Linked DNA regions of Homo sapiens: region 1 is linked to region 2. The links come from fine-mapping of genetic effects on gene expression. A gene starts in region 2. The other region holds a variant in brackets. All regions are shown on one strand. Distances are from middle to middle.

What was found. PIP is the estimated chance that this variant, and not a neighbour inherited with it, causes the effect. A credible set is the group of variants that fine-mapping cannot tell apart.
Region 1: its variant is the best candidate, but not a certain one, in a credible set for the expression of GNAT2 in whole blood (INTERVAL, PIP 0.61).

The regions. Positions count from the first base shown.
Region 1 is chr1:109,586,261-109,591,490 of GRCh38, reverse strand. GNAI3 (G protein subunit alpha i3) reads right to left here. Exons shown (of 9, transcript NM_006496.4): 6 at 5,146-5,230; 7 at 4,609-4,762. It also overlaps the pseudogene RNU6V. Among named protein-coding and RNA genes, the nearest start is that of MIR197, 10 kb to the left of the region's middle. The variant G/A (reference allele first, on the strand shown) is at 2,674.
Region 2 is chr1:109,616,684-109,621,913 of GRCh38, reverse strand. GNAT2 (G protein subunit alpha transducin 2) reads left to right here and starts at 2,298. Exons shown (of 9, transcript NM_001377295.2): 1 at 2,298-2,431. AMPD2 (adenosine monophosphate deaminase 2) reads right to left here and starts at 2,077. Exons shown (of 19, transcript NM_001368809.2): 1 at 1,636-2,077; 2 at 648-1,000. The coding sequence starts at 738. RefSeq lists enhancers at 600-719, 792-1,320, 1,280-1,329, 1,851-2,379, 2,350-2,399 and 1 more and a silencer at 1,970-2,159.

The DNA.
Region 1 (5,230 bases), 30 kb after region 2:
TCTGCTACAAAGTGTCTCCAACTAGAAAGGATCAATGAAGTGAGAAATTGTTGAGAAGGATACAGTTTGCTTTTAGATGTCCTTTTTCCAATATGAACATTCATTCATAGTGTTTTGATTACCCTTATGTTACTAAAAGATGGCAATAAACGCTATGGGATTGTTTGTATTAAAACAAAAAAAAAAGGAATTCAACAAGGTAAATTGTTCTTTTCAAAATCATTCCACAGTTTTAAAGAGGTTTAGCTTCAAAGCCTTAAGGTAATAATTTAAATAAGGAAAAGCAATACACTTTAAAAGAGTGAATTTTAGGGTTTCCCAATTATATCTCAATGAAGCTATTATTTTTTACAAAAAGAAAGGTGACAGGAACCAAAAGCAAAGCCTGTCTCAACAATATTTGTAATTAATACCCTTAAATCACCTGCTTTTTACACCATCTTGTCTACTTATAGAACCTTTAGAGTAGCCTTAGAAACTGGCTATAAAGCCAGGGAAACGCAACAAAGACAATTCATTATTCCAATAAACTACAGGCTATTTTCAGTAACGTGAAGCATAACAAAAATATCAATAACAAAGATATAAAGAAGACCAGGTAACAAAACGGAGCTTAAGAAAAAAGGAGCTGGGTGCGGTGGCTCACATCTGTAATCCCTGCACTTTGGGGGCCGCAGCAGGTGGATCGCTTGAGGTCAGGAGTTCAACACCAGCCTGGCTAACTTAGTGAAACCACATCTCTACTAAAAATCAAAAAATCATTAGCTAGGCCTGGTGGTGGGCACCTGTAGTAGAGCTGAGGCACAAGAAGCACTTGAATCTGGGAGGTGGAGGTTGCAGTGAGCCGAGATCATGCCACTGCATTTCTGTCTGGGAGACAGAGCAAGACACTGTCTCAAAAAAAAAAAAGGAAAGGAAAAGAATATTAATTAAAATATTTAAAGAACTGAAGGAAAACAGCTTTGTAGGTGCTTGAAGCAGGTTCTTAAAATCTGGAAAACAACCTCTGTAAATTAAAGGAGGCAGATGAGTGAAAAGTGAATTTTGTCTGCTAGGAACAGATAATAATACCTGGCAAATAAGGACCGTAAGAATCTGTACACAGAATGAAGACAATGGAGGATAGGCTTGGAAGTTAACAACAACAAAGAAAATGGAAATGATATTAAAGGCTCTTTGCTTTGTGTGAAGACTCTAAGCTGGGCCTTCAACATTAATGCCAATTATTTTACTTGTCTTACATCTCTCTCCCCCAATCCTAAAACTTGGTTGCTTTCTATAAACTCACCTTATTCTCACCTCCCTCTGTTCTTTACTCTGAACAGGTAACCACATTTCCAACTTCCTTGATAAAACAGAGGCCATGAGGATTAAACTACATCTCAACTTTTTGGCCTACCACCTCACTCAAAATGTTACATATCTGCACTTATTTGTACTTCTGGTCTTAGAGGTGTCTTACTTCTTGCTCAAAAATCAATTGCTCTACCTATACTCTTTTAAAAAAATTATTGAGGAAAATTAACATAACAGATATTTAACCATTTTAAAGTGTACAATTCTGTGGCACTTAGTGTATTCACAATGTTATGCAATCACCACCTCTCTCTAGTGACAAAACTTTTTCAACACCCTATTCCCATTAAGTAATCACTCCCTTTTCTTCCCATTCTCCCACTTCTCATAACCACTAATATTCTTTCTGTCTCTATGGACAGAAATTGCCCTATTTTGGATATATCATATAATAGAAGTATTGGCCTCTTTTACTTAGCACAGTGTTTTGAGTTTCATACAAGTTGTACCATCTATTATTATTCCTTTTCTTGGGTAAGTAATATTCATTGTATGTATATAACACAATTTGTTTATCCATTTATCCTACCTAGACTCTTAATTCCTTTTTTCCCACCTGCTTGCAAATCTTGCTCCTTCAATTACATCTGTTTTTTAATGTATCTCTTTTGCTTATAGGATCTTAGCCCTCAGCCTATAAACATTCTTAAATCTCTCCCTTCCCTTTAAACCCACGTTGCTCAAGAGTAGTCTACACTTGTCTTCTTTCTTCACTTTCCATTCTGTAACTCACTGTACTCAACTTTCCACTGACACTGCTCTCAACAGCAGGTCAACGACCTCCTAACTGTTAACTCCAAAGGCTCTTTTTCAGTATGTATCTTACTTATCTGCAGATAACACTGTTGACTGAAATATTTAATCAACTCACTTTTTAACCTCTCCTTTTGGTTATGATATCTTTCTTCCTCTCCTGCCAATAGAGGCTGCTATTCTCTCTCGTTCTACCTGTGGTCCTTTTTCTCCTCATTCTATAATATTATCTCCATAGGTCATTTCACCCATTTCCATGTTTTCACTACTGATGATCTCAAACCCCAACCTCTCCTCAACCTCGAATATAACTGTCCATGAGATATTATTTCAACGTTCTATGAATAATTAAAAATCAACATTCCTATACATGAATTCAGGTCACAGCACCAGCATCCAAGACAGAAACCTGGGAGTACCTCTGACTCTTCCCACTTCCTTACCCCTGCTTTACCCCTTCACTTTATTGATTGATTGATTGATTGATTGATTGATGGAGTCTCACTCTGTCACCAGGCTGGAGTGCAGTGGTGCGATCTCGGCTCACCGCAACCTCCGCCTCCC[G/A]GGTTCAAGCGATTCTCCTGCCTCAGCCTCCCGAGTAGCTGGGATTACAGGCGCACACCACCATGCCCAGCTAATTTTTCTATTTTTAGTAGAGACAGGGTTTCACCACATTGGTCAGGATGGTCTCGATCTCTTGACCTCATGATCCACCTGCCACGGCCTCCCAAAGTGCTGGGATTACAGGCATGAGCCACTGCACCCAGCCTCACTTTATTATAGAAAGCATTTACAGTGTCTCTGCTAATAAGAGTTCCCCTTCTCTGGAAATACCTGATTCTGATCTATAAGTTTCATAGTGATCCATCCCTGGCAGTTACATTTGTGCCCCTGACCTCAACTGATTGGCCTACAGATTTCTGCCTGACTTAACCACGGCCAGAATCTCTCTCCTTGGAATTTGAAACCAAGGCCAAGCAATCCCAGTCTAGTCTGATCTTTTTTTTTTTTTTGCTCAGTCGCCCAGGCTGGAGTGCAGTGGCGCGATCTCGGCTCACTGCAAGCTCTGCCTCCCGGGTTCATGCCATTCTCCTGCCTCAGCCTCCCGAGTAGCTGGGACTACAGGTGCCTGCCACCAAGCCCAACTAATTTTTTTTGTATTTTTAGTGGAGACGGGGTTTCACTGTGTTAGCCAGGATGGTCTCGATCTCCTAACCTCATGATTCACCCGCCTCGGCCTCCCAAAGTGCTGGGATTACAGGCGTGAGCCACCGCGCCCAGCCTAGTCTGATCTTTTTACCAGAGATACAGAAACTGTGACTAGGCTGTTATCACATAAACTGAATAGCAGAGAAAGCTGGTTAGGAAAGAAAGAATAATAAAAAAGATACACAGAGAGGAGAGAAAAAAGATGGGGATAAAGAGTGCTTCCAGGGTTCCTGACAATTATTTCCTAGTTCTAATTCCATTCTAAGACCTGTCCATTCTTGCCCTTGGGTTCTATGATATATCCCTTAATCCCCATCAAAAGTTTTTATTTCCATCCTGAGTTCTTACTAATTCAAATCCCCTACTATCTATCTTTATTATTTATTGCATAATCTTTCTCAAGCACAGTTTCTTCTATATCATGCACCCCATGATATGGATCATGGTAGGATATTAAACCTTTAACTGATCATCGTCTCAGCATGAGATATAAGGCCCTCCATGAGTTGATCTCTGACCATCTCTCCAACCACTTCTTCCCTGCCACTGTAAACTCTAGTAATACCAAATTCCTTCTGGGTTCCACAACTGGTCATACCATTTTCCTACCTCCATATTCTCATATATGCAATTCCTCTTTTCTAAAATGCTTTTATTCCCGTCTGCCTGATGATTTCTATTTCATCCTCTTAGTAGCTCTAGAAAAAGACTACAGTGACCCCATCAGAAGTAACCACTTCTATTCCACTTCTATTAATGCATATTTTACACTATAATAAAATTATTTATGTGCAATTAAACACTATAATAAAATTATTTATGTCTCTCTGCAACTACATGTCAGTCTCTTGGGCACAATGATTAAAATTTACCCTTGTATTTTCTTCAACATATACCAAATTTTACTTTATTTTTTGTGAGGCAGGGGGGTGTCACTATGTTGCCTAGACTGATCTCAAACTCTTGGGCTCAAATGATCCTCCTGCCTCAAGCTTCCAAGTAGCTAGAATTATAGCCACCATGCCCAGCTCCCAAATTTACTTTTTCTCCTTTTGTATTTTCCTCAAAAAATGAAGATAGAAATTTAAAATAAACACAGAAAACTCAATTGTGTCTGATATGGCACTCTTGACTTAGGGGCTTTTAATCACAGGCTTAATGCCAATGCCACTACCACTGAATACTCTCCCAATCAATCATTAAAAAAAAAAAGGCAGTTTTATGAATGCCACCAAAGTGTTGATCTAAGTAAGATGTGTACCTCCAATAAAATCTTTCATAACCCCTTACCTGTGTATTCTGGATAACAGATAGTTAACGGACTCCTCTTTATTTTTTCCTCAAAAAGGTCTTTCTTGTTAAGGAAGAGAATGATTGAAGTTTCTGTAAACCATTTGTTATTACAAATGCTGTCAAACAGTTTCATGCTTTCATGCATTCGGTTCTGAAAAAGAAATAAAGGATGATAGGTCAGTAGCAAATAGTAAAAGTGGATTAAGTTAATGAAAAAGACAAACCAACAAGTTTTGCAGCACTAAATGGCATTCACGGAAATAAGTCAAACACCAATAAGATAAAGTTGAGTGTCAGTCCTCATTTTTGTAATTTTTGGGGGAGAGGAGGTAGGAGGAAGGGCTGGCTAACATCCTTTCCACATACTCAAGGTGGCTATAACATCTTTTTTAGAGTAATAGGGCACAGATCAAAAAAATTAAAGATACTAAGTTTTGGTTGAATGAGGAAATGGATGCAGATAATCTTCCTAATAAGTTATTTTCCATTTCCTGGCTACATTAGACAGGCTTTTTACCAGAAGCTCCAACATACCATCTCCTCGTCCTCAGCCAGAACAAGGTCATAATCACTGAGGGCCACACAGAAGATAATTGCTGTCACTCCCTCAAAACAGTGA
Region 2 (5,230 bases):
GCAGAAGCACACACAGTGCGGGCAGCAGCCCCAGCCTGAACCCTGCACGGACCTGACCAAGGACACCCCATACTCCTAAGGAGGCTCACAATATAGACCAGGAATGAGCAAATAGCAAACGATAGATACAGTCAAGCCCCCAGTTGTGGGATGCCAGCCAGCAATGGTTGTGCCCAGATGTCAGACCCCCAGTGAGGGGGATCTAGATGTGGGGTCCTAAAAAGTGGAACTAGCCACAGAACAGCCTAAGCCTGCCTGGTAAAGGCACAGGCGCCAGTCAGAGTGGCCAGTCCACAAAACAGTCAGTCCCACACACCCCCGCTCCATTCACACATGCTTCACACGCAGTCTTAGCACATGCACACGCTGACACGTGTGCATACACACCTCTTGCTGCACCCACACCATGCCCACTCCTTGTGACAGAGGACAGCATCCCTGGCACAGATATCTCAGATCCACCCCCCGCCCCCCACCACCCCTCACCCCACCTTCCAAGCCGGCTGTCCCTGGGACTGAGGTTGAGGGGCACCACCACAGAGAGGATGCCGGAGGAGGTGGCCCCCTCTGAGGGGACCAGCACCTTGGGCGAGAGGTGGCAAGACAGAGCCCAGCATCTATCCTGAGGCCAGGAAGCACACACTCACCTGGAGCTGCAGTGGAGGCCTGCAGGCTGGCCCGCTTCTTAAAGGGATATTTGGCCTTGGGCTTGCCAGAGCCAGATGGATAGGATGCCATGGCTGGGACCACGGCGGCGACAGCGGGGGAGTCTGAGCGGCACCGGCTGGGGCCTGGCTCTGCCACATCCAACCCCTTCCTCCGCCCCGCCCCCAGCGGGAGTGACTGATGCAGGAAGCAGCGGCTCCGCAGGCGGAAGAGGCCCTGGCCACGATTTCTCATGTTGTCTAGGCAACCTCGGGGAGTGGGGCCTCCATCTCTGCCCCTTATCCCTCCCCTGCCTCCTCAGTCCCAGGAGTGACGTGACTGATGGTGGCTGGGCCTGGCGGGGGGCGGGGAGGGGGTGGGTAGAAAAGAAGATGGGGAAGGGCCAGCCCCCAGCTCTCCACTAACCCACCAAGAGCCCTCACCCCATCATGCCAGGGCTCCCGGGCAAAGAAGCCAAAGTCCAGGCTAGCTGGTCCTTCCAGCTAGCCTGGAAGAAAAAAGAATAACAAACAGGAATTCAGCAGCGAGCGAGTCCAAGCTCAAACACAGTCCTCCCGGGGCAGGGCAGGCATACTCCGTGAAAACCCAGCACCCACTTTCCTTCCACATCTGACCCTCAGCTCCCGGGGTAGCCCAGCTCTGGGAGGAGGGGGAAGAACCGAGAATCCCAGCCCAGGAGGGAGGGGCCTGTCCCGGGAAAATTCCACCGTCGCCAAATAGCTACCTCCCAGGAAGGCAGGAAGGCCAGGAGACCCCCTTGTCTGGGGGTCTGGGACAGAGACCCTAGCCTCTTTGGATTTTTCCTCTGTCTCTGCACACTCTGGCTCTGCTCCCCAGGCCCTCCTGGGAGGAGCTGACCGCCTTCCCTAGGTCCTGCTGCTGTGCTGTGACTCCCACCCTCTTGTCACTCTGGCCACAGCACTTCTCTGTCCCAGAGACCCTCCCTCCAACACACGTACACACACTCACCTGAGGCCATGATGCCCGAGTTCCGAGGGGAGGCTGCCCACGAGAAGTCTGTACAGCAGAAAGCCCGGGTCCTGAGGGACGGCAGGGGGATCGGGCCACAGACCCCAGCCAAGTCACTCCAAGGGCCCCTGCCCTGGCACTGAGATGGGGAAAGTAAGGCAGTCTTTCAAAATTGCCAGCTGGCCGGAGGTGGACTCCCGCAGACCTCGGCAGCCGGACTGGCCTCAAGGCGACCCCGGTGTCGCGACCACCCAACCCTGCAATCGAGAGGCTGGTAGGCCACGTGCTCCCAAGGGAGCGGGACCCGAAACTCGTCCAGATTTCTCTCAACACTCCCTGGGCATTCAGGGTCGGACTCCCGCGGCCGGACTGTGGGGGAGTCACGCAACAGGTGAGACCCCACCAAAATCTCGCCGGCTCCGCGCCAGGCTCTGCGGCCCTTGGCCCCGCCCCCGCCTGGCCCCGCCTCCGCCTGCCGACCCCGCCTCGCCATTTTTTTCTCTTCCTGGGCGCCACGTGGGCAGCCACCACACCGCGGTAGGGCTGGCCTGAGCCGACCCTGGGTCTTGGGCCAGTTCCGTGCGTCAGCTTCCTCATCAGTAAGATGGGGTAATGACAGTACCTCACTCAAAGGGGTTACTGTGAAGATTAAACGTAAAGTCCCTTTACACAGTGCCTGGCACGAAGTGAGGGCCCAGTGAAAGGTAGCTGTTATCATTGTCCCAGGATTCATTTTAAGCAGAAGTCCTGCCCCTGCAATCTCACTTGGTCGTCTGTTTTCTTCCGGCCGGCGTAGGTAGGAGGCTGTGCCCTGCAATTCTGGCTCCCCTTCCCACATTTCTGTATTTGGTGGTTAAGAGCTTTAACTCTAGCCAGAATGTCTGGGTTCAAATCCAGATTTCACCTACTTCCTGACTGATACTGGGCAAGTTACCTAACTTCTCTGTGCTTCTATTTCGTCTGTAAAATGAGTGTAAGAGTACCTGCTTTATATGGTGGTTAAGATAAATGAGTTAATATAAGTTAACTGCTTAGAACTGTGCCTGGCCTGTAGTTAGTACTCAGTATTCATGTATTACCATTGCTTTAGCCTTGGCCTTGGTTCTCTATTGACACTCACAGGTTGATTCACTTGCAGCCGTTCTGGGGTCTATCCAACAAGCATCCCCACTGCCAAGGGGTAGATAATCCGACCTAAAGGGAACTTGTGGAGGGAAGTCCCTAAGACTTCACTGAATATAATTAAATGCATTAGCAGGAATTAATCTCTTCCCTATTTTCCCTCTTGTGGGAGGCCTTTGCCCCCCACACCCAGTTGTTCTAATGCTGTTTGTCTGGCTCCTCCCAGTTCTTACCACTCCCACAGCAGAGATCCTTCCCAAACTCTGCCTCCCTCTTCTCTCCCCACGCTGGATTCTGGACCCTGAACCCTTTTCTCCACCTGCATCTGGTGCCACTTCCATTGATCCCTGGCTACTGTTCCCTGAACAAACTTAAAAAAAACTTGGCCTCTTCACCTCACACAGAATCCATAAAACTAAAAAGAGAACAGAGATAACCAGGTTTACCTAATCAAAATAGCAAAGACTAAAAAACAAAAAACCAAAAAATAAACGCTAATGCAGGTTGGCAAGGGTATAGTTAGTGAGATGGGAGACACACACACACGTACATGTGCACAAACACATTACTGGTGGCCTTGAACACTGATATAATCTTTCTGAAAGCCATCTGGTAATATAGAATCAAAATTTTCAAAAAGGTTCTTATTATTTGACCCAGTAATCAACTTTCTGGAAGTTGTTTTTCTAAAAAGAGCTGCCAGAAAAATATGTATGCAAAAAGTTGTTCAGCACCACAATGTGTATTGCATAGAAAAGTTAGATACTTTAAAGGTCGAACAATAGGGGAATGTTTATGTAATATTCATACCATGAAATACAGCCATTAAAAATTGTTCTTGGAGAAATGTTTAATGATGTGGAAATGTTTACAATATAAAGTTAGGTAAAAGAATGGATGCAAAACACTATACACAGTATGGTCCTACTTATGTGATATACATGGGTAGAAAAGAAACACACCAACAAGTTTACCAATGATTATCTGTAGTGATGGAATTATGGGTTATATTTATTTTCTTTATATTTATTTGCATTTTAGAAATTATAATACATACCCATAACTTTTATAATCAAGGGGATAGAAATCAACAAAAATCTGTAAAAATCTGTAATTGCCTCCACAGTCCCCCCAACCCAGCCTTCCCGGGGTCTTAACCCCAGACTTAAACTATTCTGTTTACATTTATGGCCCACTGAATTGGTCTTGGGGCGCTTAGGGATTTTGAGGCTGATGGACTCTCAAGAATGAATAAAATGAATCTCAAAAATCAAGCACCATGTAACTACATAAATGTCATGTATCTTCTGATAAGATGCAAATGTTGACATAGTTTTAAAGATAGTATCTTGCATTGGGCCAGGTCTCTTGAGCATCCTGCTTAATGCAGACCTACCTACCTCAGCAGCCAATAGGTGGCAATCCTTGCCCTCCACCCAGCCCAGGCAAACCAGTTCATTAGTCCCTTTATGCTAGTCCCCTAGTCCCATCTGCAACACACCCTTCACTCTACAACCCTCCCCTATTTCCAGGTCATCTGGTGTATTGTTGCTGCTAGGAAGTCGGCCCTGATTATAGTTAGGCATCAATCCCTCCACCCACTCCATACCAGCAAGAATCTCAGTGAGGTTTCATTGTCTACGCAGAACAGAGCTTGGGAAATAAAGGAGTGAGTCATCCTATGGCCTGGGCTTTTTTCACACTGAGGCCTTAACATTCATTGCCTTTGAGCCTCTGAGATATTCCCTAGCTCCAAACACAGCTTCCTCCCCTCCTAGCCTGTTCCCCACATGGCTCCTTAACTGGCCCTCCCGGAATCCCAGCTCCCTAAAGATGGTGCACTCCTGTTTCTCTGAAGAAGTGCTTTTCTTTGCTTCTGGACTTCAGCTCACTTGTGATGTCCGCCTCCCTAGCTAGGCCAGAACAATCTTCACAGATACTAAACTTGGGAGAGAATATCTGCAGCTCCAAAAAGGTCCTTGGCCAAGGCAATTTCCCAAACCATACCTTATGCCTAGGCCCTTCTAGAAACAAGCTGTTCAGCTCTGGTTTCTCAGCTTCTCCCAGCAGCCAGCTCCCTCTCCCCCTCACCTCAGTCACCCAGCATTGTGTTTATAGCACCATACAGCTGTTTCCATCTATACTTGTTTATAAGACCCCAGTGGATTTTAGTCAAACCCCTTGCCATTGAAGGCGCTTCACTGGCTGGCTCCAATTTCCCTTTCTTGTCTTCATCTTCACCTCCCAACCCTCCACTCCATGCACCTTTCACTCCAGTCCAGTCACATCAAAGTCCCAGTCTTCTCTGAGCACACCTTGTACTTTGTGCCTCTACCTCTTTTTTCATGCTCTTTCCTTTCCCCAAAATGCGTATCTCCCACTTCCACTGTTATTCTGCTTCTCTGTGGAAAGTCTATTCATTTCACAATCACCCTTTTCTTTCTTCCGCTGTAGAACTTTGTCAGTCTGACAG